Linked DNA regions of Homo sapiens: all the other regions are linked to region 1. The links come from fine-mapping of genetic effects on gene expression. A gene starts in region 1. Each other region holds a variant in brackets. All regions are shown on one strand. Distances are from middle to middle.

Region 1 (2,840 bases):
GGTGAGCCAATATCTCGCCACTGCACTCCAGCCTGGGCAACAAGAGCGAAACTCCGTCTCAAAAAAAAAAAAAAAGAAAAGAAAGTGACAATGTGAGAGATTCAGGACCAAGGGTGTACAGAGCTGAGCCGGGCCCAGGAGGTGTCCGGAGAACTTCCCTTAATCAGGGGCCAGCGCAGATCAGGAGATGGAGTAATCCTGACCCACATCCTCTGGGAGCAGGGGAGGGGCCCTGGCCAGAGAGCCCAGCCCTTGCAGCAGGGGCCTGGGGCAGGCAGATGGCAGCCCCACCTAACAGCCAGAAAGAAACCGCAGCAAATCACAGAGGCCTGACTTTGCCCCCTACCTTCACCCACTGAGAGAACCGGCCACTGTCAGGCCAGGAGTATGAGGAGGACAGGCACTATATTTTGTAGAAGAGGAAATGAAGGCTGAGAGGGGAAGTGACTTATCTACCATCCCACAGAAAGGCAGGGCCTGGCCTAGAGGGAGCCCTGACGGACCACTAGCTGCTCCTATCCATGGCCCTGGAAAAGTGGGAGGTGGGCACTGAAGGGACACAGGCAGTCCGGTCCACTCAGGGCTTCCCAGCTGGCCAGGGTTCCCCCAAGGCAGAGAACTTCATCTTTCCTCCCCATCCAAGGAGGCAAAGACATGCCCCTTCCCTTGGGCTGAGAGGGGCTGAAGCTGGGACCCCCTCAGGGGATAAGAAACAAATTCACCTTCCTCTAGACCCAACAGGCCCCTCATTTTAACTTAATCATTCCACAGGCATATATTAAGTGCTTGCTGCGTGCTGGACCCTCGGATAAAGCGGCTGCTGGCAGAACTGAGTTTGCAAGTAAAGGGCAGGGGCAGGGGCAAGACCCAATCCCAGGCCAAGAGTGTTTTGAGTGGTTAGAAGGAGGCTCCAGGGACACAGTTGGTCCAGCCCTCGGGTGGGGAAGGCAGGGACTAAGATCAGACCCTAGGTGGGCCGGACTCCCGATTCCTTCCCTACAGCTAGCTGCTCAGATGGATGTGGAGCGGGGAGAGAGTGGGGGAAAAGATACAGAGACTTATACAAGGGAGAAAAAAGCAACTTCTCCAATCCTCCTGCCACCAAAGCATGGTCACATCCTTGAGACAGGAACCCCCCAACACACACATACACACACACACAGAGTCAGGATCCGATCCTTGAGACAGGAACCCCCCAACACACACATACACACACACACACAGTCAGGATCCGACACACACACACACACACACACACACACACACAGAGAGAGAGAGAGAGTCAGGATCCGACCACGGTAATCGGGGTTCGAGCCCAGTCACCCAGGCCACTTTCAGCAAGTCATCAATCTCGCTGGAGTCTCAGTCTCCTGGTCAATCCAATGGGAACGGTAACAACCACGACGCCCCACAACTGGTGAGAAAGTCAGCGAGAATGAAGGAGGACGCGGTCTGCGAAGTCCCCGATATGGATCCAGCCCCTCGCCCCTGCCCCATTTGCCCAGGCTCTTCCTGAGGTGAGACTGGCGGGAGTGGGGCGGGCAGGAACGAGGGCCTGAGCCCAGGACCGCAATCCCCGTGAGGGGCTCGAGGACCCCAGCCCAACGCCCCGCCGGGCCCCGCCCTCACCTCCTCCTCCATGGCGAGTCCGCCGAGGTCCCGCCGCTCCGCCACTCGCTTCCAGCGCCGCGCGGGCTCTGCCACCGCGTCTACGCCCGGCCAGGCGGCGACTCTCCGCGTTCTGTCCCGCCGGCTGCCGGGGGCCCAAGAAACTTCGGGGGGGCGGGGCCGGGGGCGGGGTGAGGCTTCCGGGGGCCGGGGCGGGGCCGGGGAGGGGGCGGTGGGGCCGGGGGCCCGGCCCAGGGCGGGAAATGGGTGGGGAGGGGCGGGGCCTGGGTTGGAGACTGGACGGAGGAGCCGGGCGGAGATGCAACTGGAGGAAGAGGGCGGGACGGGGCGGAGAAGGTTTCCCGCATCGGCGGAGGGAGAGGGACTAGGAGGGGGCTGCGGCGGGGGAGGAGAGGGGGCTTCCGGCCCAGAGACTGAGGCGAGGGTGGCGGGAGCGGCGCGCAGGCAGGGCTGGGGTGGGGCGCACACAGTGAGCGCTGGGGGCGCTGGCGGTGGAGCCTTTGAGGTCTCCCGAACCAGTGGGCTGGGGTTGCGAGACCGAGCCGAGCTGCCCTGGGCGGCCAGAGATGTGGGCACACAGAGGCTCCTCCTCTTTCCTCCCCGACGCCGGGCAGTGGGCGGTGGCCTGGTCTTCTCCCTGGAACCTCTGGGCGGGGCCGGGCCTGGAGCTTGGGTCTCTGTCCGGAGGGTGGTGTCACAGGAAGAGCTGGAGCTGAGAGTCGGGACTCCGGGGTCCCTTTAGGGGGCGGCCCGCCCCTGGCTCTCAGGGGTCTCCAAGCGCAGTGTTCTCCTGCTCTCCTTGGGCATCGCTCAATCCCTCCCGTATCTGAGGGTCGACCATCCCCCCGATCCCGCGGTGAGCTTGCAGCCCTGACAGCCTTACTGGAGAGTGGGAGTGTGGGGACCAGCAGAGAGTAATGATTTTAGTTATACCATGCGCCCTCATTTTACATTGGAGAAACTGAGGCCCAGAGAGAGAAAGTAACTGGCTGCATCGCAGCCTGCAGCACCGCTCCCCTCTCACACACACACGCATACTCCCCCTTAGCTCTCCTGGTCAACCCCGTCCCATGCCAAGGAAGGGAAAATTAAGTGCATGTGAGATCAATGGTGACCTTCTTCGGCTCTGGCTGCCATAGCAGCGGCTGTGCCAGCGACCAAGCTCCCCTTTCACGGCCTTCTGCCAGCCCTCAGGCTCCCAGGCTACTTCC
Region 2 (2,793 bases), 29 kb before region 1:
CCAAAGTGCTGGGATTATAGGTGTGAGCCACTGCACCTGGCTACCCCTGGGGTTTGAATCCAGGTGTGTCTGCCTCCAAACCTGAAGTCATGTTTTCTCTACTTACATCCTGCTGTTTCCTCTAAGAATTTTGTTAAATTATGTCAACAGGGAGGAATTTCCATCATCACCTCTCCACCATCCATGTTCCATCACAGAGCCTCCTTGGTCACAGAAACCTCTGTGGAGTGAGTTTGTCTTTTCTGACACCCCTTTTGTCTGGGACATGAGGGTAGGGGTGGGGAGGCAGGAAGACAAGACAGGGAGAAGGGAACAAAACACAGTGACTCCCGAGACAGGATGCCGCCAGGGCCTAGGCAGGGGTAGAGGAAGGGGCAATCTGGTTGCCCCTCCCCCTGTCCTGGGTCCTGTCTGATGATAGCCACCTTGTGATTTGTGAAACCCTCTACTGGGCTGGACACGGTGGCTCACGCATGTAATCCCAAGCACTTTGGTAGGCCAAGGCGGGCAGATCACTCATGGTCAGAAGTTCGAGACCAGCCTGGCCAACATGGTGAAACTCCATCTCTACTAAAAATACAAAAATTAGCCAGGCGTGGTAGCGCACGCCTGTAGTCCCAGCTCTCAGGAGGCTGAGGCAGGAGAATTGCTTGAACCCAGGAGGCGGAGGTTGCCATGAGCTGAGATCACACCACTGCACTCCAGCCTGGATGACAGACCGAGACTCCGTCTTAATTAAAAAATATGTACATATCCTAGCCGGGCTCCATGGCTCACGCCTATAATCCCAGCACTTTGGGATGCCAGTGTGGGTGGATCACCTGAGATCAGTAGTTCGAGACCAACCTGGCCAACATAGTGAAACCCCGTCTCTACAAAAAATACAAAAATCAGCCAGGTGTGATGGCAGGCAACTGTAATCCCAGCTACTCGGGAGGCTGAGGCGGAAGAATCGCTTGAACCCAGGAGGCGGAGGTTGCAGTGAGCCAAGATCACACCACTGCACTCCAGCCTGGGCGACAGAGACTCAGTCTCAAAAAAAAAGGCCAGGTGCGGTGGCTCACGCCTGTAATCCCAGCACTTTGGGAGGCTGAGGCGGGCGGATCATGAGGACAGGAAACCGAGACCATCCTGGCTAACATGGTGAAACTCCGTCTCTACTAAAAAAAAAAATTATATATATATATATATATATATTAGCTGGGTGTGGTGGCGCGCGCCTGTAGTCCCAGCTACTTGGGAGGCTGAGGCAGGAGAATGGCATGAACCCAGGAGGCGGAGGTTGCAGTGAGCCAAGATAGCGCCACTGCACTCCAGCCTGGGCGACAGAGCCAGACTCCATCTCAAAAAAAAAAAAAAAAAAATCCTGCACTGTAACAACCCACAGGACTTCAAGTCACAGAGATATGGCAGCCTGTGTTCAAAAGGAGGGCTACCCTTCTCTGCACAGGCCTCCAGCCCCAAGACCAGAGG[G/A]AAACGCACTTCTTCTTCTTTTTTTTTTTCTTGAGATGGAGTCTTGCTCTGTCGCCAGGCTGGAGTGCAGTGGCGTAATCTCGGCTCACTGCAACCTCCGCCTTCTGATTTCAAGCGATTCTCCTACCTCAGCCTCCCCAGTAGCTGGGACTACAGGCACATGCCACCATGCCCAGCTAATTTTTGTATTTTTAGTAGAGATGGGGTTTCACCGTGTTGGCCAGGATGGTCTCGATCTCTTGACCTTGTGCTCTGCCCACCTTGACCTCCCAAAGTGCTGGGATTACAGGCGTGAGCCACCGCGCCTGGCCAGAAATGTGCTTCTTACCACATCCTTCCCCATGGCTGGCCAACACCATCCCAGCAGCCACTCTCTTCAAAGTGGCCTTACAGAGGGGACTCTGCCATCAAAAAGACTCCTCTATGATGAAGGGGCCTGGGAAGATGGAGTGATTCACCTGAGGTCCCTCAGCTTCTGCGGGCCACTCACTCGGTATAGCTGTCACGCGCCAGGGCAGTGGCAGGGGAATTCAGGAGCGACATGAGGGTCATTGCCACAATTGATAGGCCCCGGTTCAGGTGTTTCCTGTTGTGTTGGCCCCGGGGTCTGTCCATGGTTCTCACAGAGGAGGAGGAAGGGAGCTGGGCTTTGGTGAGCACAGTCGTGCTTTCCCACATGGGGGATGGCGGGTGGGGAGAGGGTGTGGCTGTAATCCCCTTTTGTGGGTGAGGAAACTGAGGTCTCCTGAAACTGAGACACACCCAAGGTCCTTGGGTGAGATTTGGACCTTGGCAGCCTGGTTTGGAGCTGTCCACTGGCCTAAGGGCTTCCCAACAGTGTTCAGGGAAGCCCTGGAATTCTGCTGCATTTTGTTTGTGTCAGGAGGTCAGGAGCCAAAGATAGGACCCAGGCTCACCCTTAACAAGGACCAGGCTCTGAGGGTAAAATAATGGCTGGAATCATCATTTTAGAACCATTGTAGGAAACACCTGTTCAGCAAGAATCATCAATGGATACTAAATCTGGGGAAATTTGTGGTGAGGTGCAACATATTTAGATGATCTTGTCTCCCAGATTATTAGTAAGAGGAAAAATGCAAAAACATTAACAGTAGAAAAATCAGACACCTGGCCCCAGTAATCAAAATGAACATCACCCATGAGGGCCAGATGCAGGTAGTCCATCTCCAGAGTAATATCCTGAGAAGGACCCAATTGCCTGTGCAGTTTCCAGCTGAGAATCCATAACCTCAATTAACTATCACAACTAAGCAGGTGGAAACCTCAGACAAACCCCAAAAGAGGAATCAGAAAGGGGAG
Region 3 (2,500 bases), 44 kb before region 1:
CGTGAACCACCACACCTGGCCTAATAAACATTTTTGAGGTGTGTCTTCCCATACCTCTGGGCTGAGTGCTCTTCACAGAGGATTTTATTTAATCTTCACAACAGCACTGGGGGGTGTGTTCTGTTATTATCCCCACTTAACAGATGATAAAGTGAGTCTCAAAGAAGTGAACCATCTTGCTTAAGGCCAGATGTAGGACATGGGGGAGCTAGGATTCAACCCCAGAAGTGTTTGATTCTGAAACTGTGCTATTTCTCCCATCCACGTGAAGGGGAGTTCACCATTGGAAAAGAAAGTCAGTCCTTCGACCTAGACTTGATCCCCAATTTACATAGAAATAGTTATTTTCTGGCCAGGCATGGTGGCTCATGCCTGTAATCCCAGCACTTTTGGAGGCGAGGTGGGTGGATCACGAGGTCAGGAGATTGAGACCATCCTGGCCAACATGGTGAAGCCAGATGTGGTGGTGCGTGCCTGTAGTCCCAGCTACTGGGGAGGCTGAGGCAGGGGAATCACTTGAACCCAGGAGGTAGAGGTTGCAGTGAGCTGAGATCACGCCACTGCACTCTAGCCTGGTGACAGAGCAAGACGCCATCTCAAAAAAAAAAAAAAAAAAGAAATAGTTATTTCTATTTACATGGCTTAGCCTACTGCGAAAAGCTATCCTTGAAGGATTATCAGTCACCTATACCTGAGTGTGAGGGAGTTTTTGATCCTTGTGACCTTGTACCACAAATATTTTCTCATTTACCATCTCATTTAGTGCCTGCCAACTAAGAGCAGATATCATTGTCCTCATTTTACAGCTGGGGAGACTGAAACTCAAGGAGGTATGGTGATGGGTTCTCAACCACACCTGTGGGCAGTCCCCTGGCCAGCATCCCAACCAACTCCGCTTTGGGTCAGCCACTCTGTCCTCAACACCAGCTTCTTTCTCATGGCCTTTCTCCCAGAGCACATCTCCATAGAAGGGAGGGGAGCCAGCAGGGGGACCCAAGGCCCCGGGAGAAGTGGCTGAAAGAGAGAAGAGAAACTATATGGACATTCGCCTGGAGTCCTGATTTCTTTTTTTTTTTTTTTTTTTTTTTGAGACGGAGTCTTGCTCTGTCACCCAGGCTGGAGTGCAGTGGTGCGATCTCGGCTCACTGCAAGCTCCGCCTCCTGGGTTCATGCCATTCTCCTGCCTCAGCCTCCCCAGTAGC[G/A]GGGACTACAGGTGCCCGCCACCACACCCGGCTAATTTTTTGTATTTTTTAGTAGAGATGGGGTTTCACTGTGTTAGCCAGGATGGTCTTGATCTCCTGACCTCGTGATCCGCCTGCCTCGGCCTCCCAAAGTGCTGGGATTACAGGCGTGAGCCACCGCGCCTGGCCTGGAGTCCTGATTTCAAACCATGAGTCCTTGTCGGGCTTCCAGATCTGCACACAGGAATGTAAGGGCCGCCCTTCATAAGAACAAGATAGCTGTCTTGTGTCCTCTCCCCCAGCCCTCTACCGCCAGCCTTTTTTCTGGCCAAAAGGCCCTTGGCCAGAATAGTCCTTTAACTATTCTTCTTACGACATTGTCTAATTATGATGATTAGACATAAGTATGAAGAAAAACATGCATTTTTTTTTTTTGAGACAAAGTCTCACTCTTGTCCCCCAGGCTAGAGTGCAATGGCACAATCTCAGCTCACTGCAACCTCCACCTCCAGGGTTCAAGCGATTCTCCTGTCTCAGCCTCCCCAGTAGCTGGGATTACAGGCACCTGCCACCATGCCCAGCTAATTTTTGTATTTTTAGTAGAGGCGGGGTTTCACCATGTTGGCCAGGCTGGTCTCAAACTCCTGACCTCGCGATCCACCCGCCTCGCCCTCCCAAAGTGCTGGGATTACAGTCGTGAGGCACCACGCCCGGCCAACATGCAGCTTTTAAGTTAAACAATGTATATGCCTTTTCTGGGGGAAGACTTTTCAACTGAGGAGCTGTGGGTTGCTCACTGTCCAGGGATGTCACAGAGTTGAATTTTATGCAATTAAGTGAAATAATCAGATCAGCACTCAACTTTCTGATGTGACTGGAAAATTGTCTTTAAAAAATCAAAATCTTTTTTTTTTTTTTTTTTTTTTGAGACAGAGCCTTGCTCTGTCACACCCAGGCTGGAGTCCAGTGGCGCAATCTTGGCTCACTGCAACCTCCACCTCCCCTGTTCAAGCAATTCTCCTGCCTCAGCCTCCCGAGTAGCCGGGACTACAGGCGCATGCACCACAATGCTCGGCTAATTTTTGTATTTTTAGTAGAAATGGGGTTTCACAATGTTGGCCAGGCTGGTCTCGAACTCCCGACCTCAGGTGATCCACCCGCCTCAGCCTCCCAAAGTGCTGGGATTACAGGCACGAGCCACTGTGCCCGGCTTTTTTTTGTTATTTTTTTGTTTTTGAGGCAGGGTCTCATGTCACCCAGCAGACTGGAGTGCAGTGGCACAATCATGGCCCACTGCAGCCTCAACCTCCTGGGCTCAA

The links. PIP is the estimated chance that this variant, and not a neighbour inherited with it, causes the effect. A credible set is the group of variants that fine-mapping cannot tell apart.
Region 2: its variant is the best candidate, but not a certain one, in a credible set for the expression of PLEKHO2 in subcutaneous fat (GTEx, PIP 0.70).
Region 3: its variant is the best candidate, but not a certain one, in a credible set for the expression of PLEKHO2 in fibroblasts (GENCORD, PIP 0.61).

Annotation. Positions count from the first base shown.
Region 1 is chr15:64,840,818-64,843,657 of GRCh38, reverse strand. PLEKHO2 (pleckstrin homology domain containing O2) reads right to left here and starts at 1,743. Exons shown (of 6, transcript NM_025201.5): 1 at 1,630-1,743. The coding sequence starts at 1,641. It also overlaps a transcript of LOC124903508 not described here. RefSeq lists enhancers at 536-1,087, 1,120-1,643 and silencers at 1,451-1,890, 1,901-2,220.
Region 2 is chr15:64,869,793-64,872,585 of GRCh38, reverse strand. No RefSeq gene overlaps it. Among named protein-coding and RNA genes, the nearest start is that of PLEKHO2, 29 kb to the right of the region's middle. The variant G/A (reference allele first, on the strand shown) is at 1,474.
Region 3 is chr15:64,885,454-64,887,953 of GRCh38, reverse strand. No RefSeq gene overlaps it. Among named protein-coding and RNA genes, the nearest start is that of ANKDD1A, 25 kb to the left of the region's middle. The variant G/A (reference allele first, on the strand shown) is at 1,203.